Homo sapiens: one gene and its partners. The protein of the gene in region 1 interacts with the protein of each later gene in a pairwise test. Each region holds a gene or a part of one and is shown in the gene's direction. Other genes may lie near its edges.

Region 1 (3,650 bases):
ACAAAAAAAAAAAGATGTTTGTCAAAAACGCTTTGAGATAAATGAACATAATTTAAAACTCTTGGCTGCGTGTGGTGGATCATGCCTGTAAACCCAGCACTTTGGGGAGCAGAGGCAGGCAGATCACTTGAGGTCAAGACCATCTTAGCCAACATGGCGAAACCCCGTCTCTACTAAAAATACAAAAATTAGCCAGGCGTGGTGGTGCATGCCTGTAATTCAAGCTACTCAGGAGGCTGAGGCACGAGAATCACTTGAACTTGGGAGGCAGAGATTGCAGTGAGCTGAGACAGCACCACTGCACTCCATCCTGGGTGACGGAGTGAGACTTTGTCTCAAACAAAACAAAACAAAAAAATAAAGTCTTAAAACATATATTTTCTACCATTTTACTCTCTGCCCTGCATTATGCATTGTGATGTGCCTGCTCAGGGTTAATAATGTTTAGCCATGGTTGGTGCAGAAAGACCCAGCCAGCATCTTGTTAGTGTTTTCTAGCTAAATAATGCCTTTAAATGCTGGCTTTTGTATTCTGACCTCTGACTTGAGGGCAGTAGTAGCATCTTAGAATATCAAGAATTTCACTTAGAACATCAAGATTCCTACAGTAATAAGAAAATCCATACCCCTAACAAGTCTATGCCTTCCTTACCCATACATTTTGACTGTTTCATTGTCATGCATAGGTATGTTTATAAAAATAGAGATAGAGGTGTCAGAGTTCTGACTCACCCAACTTCTTTATCTAAACCGTTATGTTTCATGTAAAATGAGCATGCTATTGTTAATTTGCATTTATTTTTTAAAAAACAGTTCTTTAAAAAAATTTTTCTTTCAAATGTTCCCAGTTCTTACTGTATTTAATTAGAAAAGCCTTTATTGTAAACAGAAAATAAAATTGAGTATGAGTGTTTTGAGTTGAGCCTTTCCCTCTTTTCTATTTTTTTTCTTTTACTGTTTGAGCTAATTTGAACAAAATTATGAACCTTACAACCAGGACTTTTCTCTTTTCTTTGCAGTGTGCGAATCTCCAGGGAGTCAAGATGCTCTGTTCTAATGCAGAAGGAGCATCCCTGAAACTGTGTAATTTTGAGGATCCTTCTGGTCTTAAAGCCAATTTAGAAGGTGAGATCCTTTCTGTAAATACCTATTCTACGAAGGAAGCAGACTGTAAAGGAAAAAAGCCCTGGAAAATAATTGTTAAGGGTGAAACAGGATAGCTGTAGGGGATAGGTTTCTTCTGTCATCATATTTGGAGAACTTCCAAAGTGGTAAGAAACCTCCATTTGGTTTCAGTCAAATGCTAATCAAAATTGAGGACTCAGAAAAAATAAAACCTCAAATATTTAATAAGGTTTTAGTTGGAAAATTAAATATCAACATCTTAAACTTTCAAATGGAATAAAATATTCTTACACTGACCAAAAGGAAAAATTTCATTTGCATAAAGCCAGGGAGTTTTTAAAAATCATTTTTAGATTTAATGTATTGTTTCTTAATTTGTTACTATCTGTGACTGATCACTTTGTTTACTTGTATATTTAGGAGACTACTTCACTCCCTTATCATAAACCTGTAGAGGCATATTATGAAAGTGCTAACTATCATAAGACAGAACTAAATTTCTTCCCTCAAAAGTATTGTGAAAGCATTCTTTCATCAGTAAACTGTTTATATATATAAGTTCGTTGAGAGACAAGATTTTAGATTAATTTCCAAAAGTTAAAAGAGGCCTCCATTAAGTCATCTTGCAGTTCTGTTGAAGGTAGATAACTATATTTTTAAGTTAAACTACTCCCAGAATGTGTTCACTGTAGGTGCTAATCTGAAAGGTGTGGATATGGAAGGAAGTCAGATGACAGGAATTAACCTGAGAGTGGCTACCTTAAAAAATGCAAAGTTGAAGAACTGTAACCTCAGAGGAGCAACTCTGGCAGGAACTGATTTAGAGGTGAGTTCACCAACACTTTAAGAATTTTTATTACTCTAGACTTACTAAGCATCTCATGCAAAATTTATTGAAATCAAAACAAAGTAGTTGGCTGGTAAAACTGGATTGGAAGACTCATCTGACATTCAGTCTAAGTTGATTTCATTTCTCTCCTTTTCCTTGAGTTTTTCTCAAGTAAATAAGTTTGATAGATGTGTTATCTAATGTATTGCATTTTCCATAAAATTTAATTCCGAATAGAATTAAATGGGCTAGATTACTTCTTAAACTACTTGAGAAATTTAAATGATATCCAGGTTTGAAATCAGGTTCAGGAAAAGTCTATTTGAAATTGGAACCATATGTTTTTTGGTTTTCAGCTTGAGATTATAATTTTGCCTGGTCATCTTTTTCAAAGAATTATATTTGTATGTCTTCTTAATTTGCCAGTTTAGCTAGCAGACTTGATAGCTGTTGATAGGTCTATATCAGCACTATCCAATAGCACTTTGTGCAGGAGGGACATGTTCTATATCTGTGCTGTTCAGTATAGTAGCTACCACCCATATATAGCTATTGAGCGCTTGAGATTTGGCTAGTGCAAATGAGAAATTGATTTTTAAATTTTATTTAATTTTAATTCATTTAAATTTAAGTAGCCACATGTGGCTGGTAGCTATGAAATCTGGTATAAATTGGATAGCAGAGAACGGTATGTCAAAATTTAGCTTGCTGTTAATGTTTTTTCATAATATTTTTGCCTAGATATCTTGATAGCTCTCGGTAGCAGAGTAGCAGGCCCCTTTCAACTTCAAGGCAAAAAGAATTGGCCTAAGTATAATCCTATCACGAGCACAATTATTTATTGTTTGTTACATTACTTTCACCTAAGATTATATTTTTTTCCTTGGTTTTAGTACTGTGTACTCAGTGTGGCCTAGCAGCAAAAGCCTCCCTCTCTCTGATTGCAAAGACTGATCAGGTTGACTATTGAGGGGAGAGCTGCTGACATTTGTTCTCCTAACAGGTTACGTTTAGTCACCCTTCTCTCTAACCATTGTCCCCTATCATATCCAGGGACTTAAGTGGAATCTCTATCTTATTGCTCCGTGATCTCAAGACAAATTAAGAAATAGCTTCAAATTGCGGTGGTTACACTGTTCTGTACATCTGTCAAACTCACTGTATTATATACGTACCTTTGGGGCTTTAAAAAGAAGGGCAGTTCCTTGCTATAAAAATACTAGGGCTAGGGAATGGAAAAATCTATTACACAATTTGATTAAGTAAAATCTTTTCAGATTAAAAAAAAAGTCTTCCCCCCATCTCATTCCTTTTGTTGTTGTTGTTCTTGGATCATAGTAAAATTGTTTTGATAATATTTATTACTTTGGGGCCAGGCGCAGTGGCTCATGCCTGTAACCCCAGCATTTTGGGAGGCCAAGGTGGGCGAATCACTTGAGGTTAGGAGTTTGAGACCAGCCTGGCCAACATGGTGAAACCCCGTCTCTACTAAAAATAGAAAAAATTAGCCAGGCGTGGTGGTGAGTGCCTGTAACCCCAGCTACTCTGGAAGCTGAGGCAGGAGAATAGCTCGAATCCTGGAGGTGGAGGTTGCAGTGAGCCGAGATTGCACTCCAGCCTGGGCAACAAGAGCAAAACTCCGTTTCAAAAAAAAAATTGTGTGTGTGTGTGTGTGTGTGTGTGTGTGTGTGTATTT
Region 2 (3,750 bases), on another chromosome or scaffold:
TCTTCTTGTTTTCCCAAGTTTCCACACACATTATTGATAAAATAAATTTTTTTGGGGGGGGTGCTGGGTGTCGCTGGGCTGTAACTCCTTACCTCAAGCCATCTGCCCACCTCGGCATCCCAAAGCGCTGGGATTACAGGCGTGAGCCACCGCCCCGGGCCGAAGGCATTATCCTTTCTCCACTGAATTGCACTTTCATTTTTGTCAAAAATTAATTGCTCACATATCGGAACTCTATTCTGTTGCATTGATCCATTTGTCTACCTGGACGCCAATACCACACTTTCTTTCTTTTTTAAATTAATTTATTTATTGAGACAGGGTCTCTCAGTCAGGGTGGAGTGCAGTGGTGCAATCAAAGCTCACCACAGCCTCAGCCTCTTGGACTCAGGTGATCCTCCCATCTCAGCCTCCCGAGTAGCTGGACTACAGGTACGTGCCTGGCTCATTTTTTGTAGAGACGGGGTTTTGCCATGTTGCCCAGGCTGGGTATCTTTTTTTTTTTTTTCTTTTTTGAGATGGAGTCTTGCGTCTTGCTCTGTCATCCAGGCTGGAGTGCAGTGGCGCGATCTCGGTTCACTGCAATCTCTGCCTCCCTAGTAGCTGGGTTCAAGCGATTCTCCTGCCTCAGCCTCCCTAGTAGCTGGGATTACAGGCGCCGGCCACCTCGCCCGGCTAATTTTTGTATTTTTAGGTTTACTGGCGTGAGCAACCGCGGCCGGCCCCAATACTACACTTTCTTGTTTACTGTGTAGTCCTTATCTTCTGGCGCAAAGCGGGCACTCGCTAAAAACCTGAATGAAAGTATAAAGCAGGCCGGGCGCAGTGGCTCATGCCTGTAATCCCAGCATTTTGGGAGGCCGGGGCGGGCGGATCACGAGGTCAGGAGTTCGAGACCAGCCTGGCCAACATAGTGAAACCCTGTCTCTACTAAAAATACAAAAAAAAAAAAAAAAAAAAAAAAAAAAAAAAAAAAAGCCGGGCATGGTGGCGCTCGCCTGTAGTCCCAGCTACTCGGGAGGCTGAGGCAGGAGAATCAATCGCTTGAACTCGGGAGGCAGAGATTGTGGTGAGCCGAGATCGCGCCACTGCACTCCAGCCTGGGCAACAGAGTGAGACTCCGTCTCCAAAAAAAAAAAAAAAAAGAAAAGTATGAAACGATGAGTACAATGAGTAGCCAGCCGCCTGCCCCACCTACCCCGCCGCTCCGGACTGCCGCCTGCGCCGAGCCTAGGCCGCCCAGCCTGACTGAAACTGCCGCTGCTGAACTCAGCGTATCCAGTCCCGCAGCTGACCAATCGGAGCTCGCCCTTCCGGGGCCCGCCCCATTCCAGGAATCGACCTCCGCACCGGCCTCGAAAATTGACCAATCGGTTGTGTAGCTCCGCTCTTAGTCCCGCCCCCACGCTGAAACTGACACTTCGGATCGCCGAGTAACGCTCACCAGACGTCCCGGCCCTGCCCCTCACCTGACCAATCAAGACGGCCGGCCGAGGCCCCTGGAACGGCTCAGGCGGCTGCGGCTGCTACGGCGGCGCATGCTAGGGGATTCTGCCGGGTGAGTGCTGGGCGGCAGGACTGGGGTGGGGCGGAAGGGCTCGGCAGGAGGCCCCACGTGCATTCCCGCGAGGGGCTCGGGGGCCGCAGTGGAAAAGAAGGGTAGGCTGCATCTGCCTCTGCGGGGGTCCCGCCTCGGCGTCCGCCCGCTCGCCCTCTGTTACTTCTGCGGCCCCGGTGTTTCTGGAGCGTCGCTTTCCCGGTGTCTCCGCTCAGCTTTTCCCTTTCCAAAGCGCGGCCGGGGCCAGGGGAGGGCAAGGCCTGCTGTGCCCTTTGACCCCGTGCGAAAACGGCGACCCTCTGACTATAGGGGTGTGGCCCAGAGCCACTTGGCCAGTTAGGGGTGGGGGCCGGGATCTTTGTCCTGCGGATCAAACAGTTGGCCCCTCTGGACTGCATCTCCGTGCCCCCCGGCCCTGCGGGGTAATATACGTGTGTGGGGGAGGTTCCGGGGTAGTCGGCTACTCTGTGCTCCAGACCTTGCACCCGATCCTGAGGATCCTTGGAGGTGGGGGGCAAGGGCTGGGAGGAGGAGGCGGAGTTTTCCCAGGCTCCCCCACACTTCCAGGGAAAGGCTTTCCAAGAACCCTGAACTCATGGACCCTGGAGTCAAATTTTGGTTCAGATCTAGCCTCTTGCTAGCTGTGTGACTTGGGGCAAGTTGCTTAACTTCCCTGAGCTTTGGTTTCTTCATATGTAAAAAGAAAGTGAAGGAGGAAGGGAGGGCAGGAAAGGAGGAAGAATCCCTTTTGAAGCCTGATTTGTGTTGGACTCACCAGTTATAAAGCAAGCTTGTCCAAACCACTGCCCAGGAGGCGGAGGTTGCAGTGAGCCAAGAAAAAAAGGAAGCATGCCCTTGCCCCAGCCATTTTGGTAATAATAGACGTTTATTGAATGCTTACTGTATACCACTGTAAGCACTGTATTAAGTAAGCACTGTACTGAGTGCTTTGTTTTTTGTATTTTGTGTGTGTGTGTGACAGTCTTGCTCTGTCACCCAGGCTGGAGTGCAGTAGTGTGATCTCCACTCACTACAACCTCCGCCTCCCAGGTTCAAGCGATTCTCCTGCCTCAGCAGCCTCCTGAGTAGCTGGGATTACTGGCGCCCACCACCACACCCGGCTAATTGTTTGTTGTTGTTGCTGTTTTTGAGACGGAGTCTCACCCTGTCGCCCAGGCTGGAGCGCAATGGTGCGATCTCGGCTCACCGCAACCTCTGCCTCCCGGGTTCAGGTGATTCTCCTGCCTCAGCCTCCCGAGTAGCTGGGATTACAGGCGCGTGCCACCACGCCCGGCTAATTTTTGCATTTTTAGTAGCGACGAGGTCTCTCGCCACGTTGGCTAGGCTCATCTCAAACTCCTGACCTCAGGTGATCCTCCTGCCTCAGCCTCCCAAAGTGCTGGGATTACAGACGTGAGCCACTTGGCCTGTTTTTTGTTTTTTTTACAGTGATGCAACCATGGCTCACTGCAGCCTGGGTCTCCTGGGCTAAAGCTATCCTCCTGAGTAGCTGGGGCCACAGACAAGTGCCACCATGGCCAGCTAATTAAATTTTTTTTTGGCCAGGCACTGTAGCTCATGCCTGTAATCCCAGCACTTTGGGAGACCGAGGCAGGCGGATCACAAGGTCATGAGATCGAGACCATCCTGGCTAACACGGTGAAACCCCGTCTCTACTAAAAATACAAAAAATTAGCTGGGCGTGGTGGCAGGCGCCTGTAGTCCCAGCTACTCAGGAGGCTGAGGCAGGAGAATGGCGTGAACCCGGGAGGCGGAGCTTGCAGTGAGCCGAGATTGCGCCACTGCACTCCAGCCTGGGCGACAGAGCAAGACTCCATCTCAAAAAAAAAAAACAAAAAAACAAAACAAAAAAAAATGTTTCTACAAATGTTGTCCAGGCTTAACATGCTTTCTTTAATTCTAACAACAATCGTATGAGGTAGATACTGTTGTCGTCCAGCAGATGAGGAAACTGAGGCACAGAGAAGTTAAATAACTTGCCTGAGGCAGTACAGTTAAAGAGTGTCGAATGGGGGTCTCTGGCACCACAGGGCACCCTACTGAGCCCCGTGTCCTGCTGTCTTGACTTCAGGTAGAAGAGCTGGGCCTGGAACCCAGCCCTGAGGACATCCTGCGGCCCAGGGGCAAGTGACACCTGCTGAGAGAGGCCCAGGATGGTGGAGGCTGAGGAA
Region 3 (3,650 bases), on another chromosome or scaffold:
GCGAGGACACGGATCTGTACCGCTGCACAGCAGTAAATGCGTACGGAGAGGCCGCTTGCTCAGTGAGACTCACTGTCATCGAAGGTGGGCTTTTCCCTGAGTTTGTCTCATCAGTGCACAGGGCAGAGACCCACAGAGGAATCAGATGCCCCGTGGCTAGTGAGGGAGGGGAGGGGAGGGAAGGGAGGCCCATCCAGGCTGCTGCCGCTGCTGCAGCCCCACCTTGTGCTGGGCCCCGGGCTTCATCCACATGCACACTGAGTCTGCATGTGTTTAAAAAGGCACACCTTGGCAGATACTCTGAAGGATATTCTCTTGGCCCAGTAAATGAGCAGGACCTGAAAGCTGGCTTCTAGTCCTAGAGCTTCTGCTAACTCATTCAATGGGCTTCGTTTTCCTCTCTGGGTCTCAGTTTCTCCACCATGCAAAGGATATTTTGGACAGGCCTATGCCAGAGTTGACAAACAGGTCACACAAAGGCCAAATTCTCTCTCAGACATGTTTTTTTTGGTGTGCGTGGTGTTTGAAATTTTAAAAATTGTCAACCTGTAGTAATTAAAAGGTAGATATCTCTTGAGGAAGCAGGTCTAGTCTCGCCATTGGTTATGCTTACAATTGATCTGCCTGCAACTAACAGAAAATCCTACTAAGAGCAGCCTAAGAAATAACGATATTTCATTCCTTCACATAAGAAGTTTTGCGAGTGGCGTCCAGGGCTCATACCACAGCTCAGGGCTGCCATCGGAGAGCTGATTCCTTCGTTCCCACTGCTCTGCCATCCTTAGCAGATTGGCTTATCACCTCATGGCCATAAGAGGGCTGTGGCAGATTCAAACATAATCCATGTTCAAGGTAGGAAGGTGGAAGAGGTGGCCCAGGTCCATCTGCCTCTCTTATTTTTATTTTTATATTTTTGAGATGGACTGGAGTCTTGCTCCATCGCGTAGGCTGGAGTACAGTGGCACAATCTCACCTCACTGCAACATCTGCCTCCCGGGTTCAAGCAATTCTCCTGCCTCAGCCTCCTGAGTAGCTGGGATTACACGCGTTTACCACCATGCCTGGCTAATTTTTGTATTTTTAGTTGAGACAGGGTTTCACCACGTTGGCCAGGCTGGTCTCGAACTCCTGACCTCAGGTGATCCACCTGCCTCGGCCTCCCAAAGTGCTGGGATTACAGGCATGAGCCACTGTGCTTGGCCTTTTATTTTCTATTTTTTGAGACCTGTTGCCCAGGCTGGAGTGCAGTGGTGTGATTATGGCTCACTGCAGCCTTGACCTCCCAGGCCCAAGTGATCCTCCCACCTCAGCCTCCCAAGTAGCTGGGACTACATGCATGTGTCATCACACCCAGCTAATTTTTTTATTTTTTTTGTAGAGGCGGGGTCTCCCTGTGTTGCCCAGGCTGGTCTGGAACTCCTGGGCTCAAGCTATCCTCCCCCCTCGGCCTCCCAAAATGCTGGGATTACAGGCATGAACCATCACGACCAGTCCATCCACCCTTTTTATAGAGGAAGCAAAGGCTTTCTCAGAAATTCCTGGAGCTCATTGGTCAGGACAGTGTCACATGAGCACTGCTAGTTGCAAGGGAAGCTGGGGAAGGTGAGTGTTTAGCTTTTTCAGCCTCTCTAGTGGAAGCAGATGATGAAGAATACAAATGGCTGCAGGATTAGCCAAACAGCAATGTCTGACCTATTTGGCAATATTGGGCCTATACCCTGAAATGGCAGCTCCCAGGTGGAGTGAAAGAGCAGCTGCCCCTTTAGATACTCTTGAGTTTGTTGTGGTTGCCAGTGTCTGCTTCACGCATTTATGCCACCTCCCTGGCCCCTGCGGACACATGACTGGGCCTCCCCTGCATGAGATGATGCTTAGGTTGGTCCCCTTGGTCATGGTAAGGCTCTAGGGTAAAAAGGCTTATGATGGACAGACCCTCCACCCTGCTCCATCCCTCTTGCTGGGATCGTCCACGCCTTAGAGGACAGTGGGGAGAGCAGGGCTCTGGGACTCCATCAGTTTCTCAGGAAGACCATCAACATGTCTTGCTTCTCTCCCTGCTTGTCCACATCGACTCCTTCCTCTCCTCCCTGGATGTTGCAGTTGGCTTTCGGAAGAATCGGAAGAGGCACAGGGAACCGCAGGAAGGTAGGCAGATTTGTCAGAAACCTCCTTGGGGGCCTGTGGGGGATAGGCTACTCCTTTCCTGGTGTTCCCTGCCTGGTTGAGCTACCATGAACACCTTGTGGATCACCACCAGTCTTCAAGAGAGCCCCTTCCAAAGGCTCAGTTGTCAGCATGGACAACACAGAAAAGCTCTGCATCAACCCTCAGTCATCCCACCTGGGACTGAGGCCTCATTCCTGCTCCTTTTTCAGACCTCAGGAAGGAGCTGATGGACTTCCGGAAGTTGCTGAAAAAGAGGTGGGTTTGGGCCTGTCCATGAGGGATTTTGGAGGCTCCCATAGTATTCACCCCCTGCTATTTCCATAAGTAAGCTGGGCTTGAGCCCCACCTCTACCCAACACAGCAGGGAGCTAGACTGCCAGTAGCAGATGGGAGGATGGGAAGGGGACTGAACTGGATGGGAATGGGACAGAGCTCCAGCTCTGCCATTTCAAAGCTCTATATCCTTGAGTTAATCATCTCTCCTCTGATTTCCTCATTTGCAAAATGTGGTGGTCCACCAGAACAATGATGTACTTTTTTTTTTTAAGCAACAGAACAATGCAACACCCACTTTCCCCAGACATCCTACTTAGAAATCTACAATACAAGTTGTCAGGAGCATTTCTCCTGAAAGTTGTGGGGTGAGGCTGAGGCTCGCCCCACCCATCTCTGAATCCTTCTGGCCTCAACAGTGGTCAGTCCCAGAGATTCCAGGCTCTGCGTTTCCTCGAGTGCAGATAGAGCAGCTTCCCAGAACTACTTGGGACACCAGAGCCAGGTGGCCAACAGAGGAGCAGGGATTCCTCTGGCCTCTGACCTGCTAGCCTTGCTCCCCAGGGCCCCACCAGCCCCCAAGAAAAAGATGGACCTTGAGCAGATATGGCAGCTGCTGATGACAGCAGACAGGAAGGACTACGAGAAGATCTGCTTGAAGTATGGCATCGTCGACTACCGTGGCATGTTGCGCAGGCTGCAGGAGATGAAGAAGGAACAGGAGGACAAGATGGCACAGGTGCCTCACCCCATTCCCACCCCTCACTCCATGCCCACCCCACACACCTGGACCATAGGTGCCTCACACCTGGAGGTGGGCTTGGAGGCAGAACTTAGGAAACCAAGTATGATCAAGGGGCCTGTCTCCATCTAGTCCCCAGTGGGGTATCTGGCTAAGGCCCTGGGATCCCAGGTTGGTGTCCTGCCTTTGCAACCTGGTTCTGATACTTACTAAACTCTGGAGCTTTGGAAGGGTTAGGGCCTCTGTATCTTGGTGTCTTCATCTGTAAAATGGGAATTATAGTCATGCCTACCTTGTAGGGTTATTGGGAGGATAAATGAGAGAATGTAATTAAAGTACTTAGCTTAGTGCCTTGATTTTTGCTATCATTATCATTGTCACCAGATTGCGGGGGGGAGGTACCTGGTTTATTTCTTTCTTTTTTTTTTTTTTTTTAAGATGGAGTCTTGCTCTTTCGCCCAGGCTGGAG

What was found.
Region 2: the proteins of KCTD9 (region 1) and MIIP interact in binary tests that used the Homo sapiens proteins (3 or more experiments, as listed by UniProt).
Region 3: the proteins of KCTD9 (region 1) and IGFN1 interact in binary tests that used the Homo sapiens proteins (3 or more experiments, as listed by UniProt).

Annotation. Positions count from the first base shown.
Region 1 is NC_000008.11:25,430,805-25,434,454, reverse strand, and holds part of KCTD9 (BTB/POZ domain-containing protein KCTD9), read left to right. Parts: intron 1-1,019; coding exon 1,020-1,125; intron 1,126-1,801; coding exon of another isoform or gene 1,802-1,817; coding exon 1,818-1,951; intron 1,952-3,650. UniProt on the Homo sapiens protein: Substrate-specific adapter of a BCR (BTB-CUL3-RBX1) E3 ubiquitin-protein ligase complex, which mediates the ubiquitination of target proteins, leading to their degradation by the proteasome.
Region 2 is NC_000001.11:12,017,995-12,021,744, forward strand, and holds the start of MIIP (migration and invasion-inhibitory protein), read left to right. Parts: upstream 1-1,503; 5' UTR 1,504-1,558; exon of another isoform or gene 1,559-1,980; intron 1,981-3,650; 5' UTR 3,651-3,732; coding exon 3,733-3,750.
Region 3 is NC_000001.11:201,197,234-201,200,883, forward strand, and holds part of IGFN1 (immunoglobulin-like and fibronectin type III domain-containing protein 1), read left to right. Parts: coding exon 1-84; intron 85-2,100; coding exon 2,101-2,145; intron 2,146-2,375; coding exon 2,376-2,421; intron 2,422-3,003; coding exon 3,004-3,178; intron 3,179-3,650.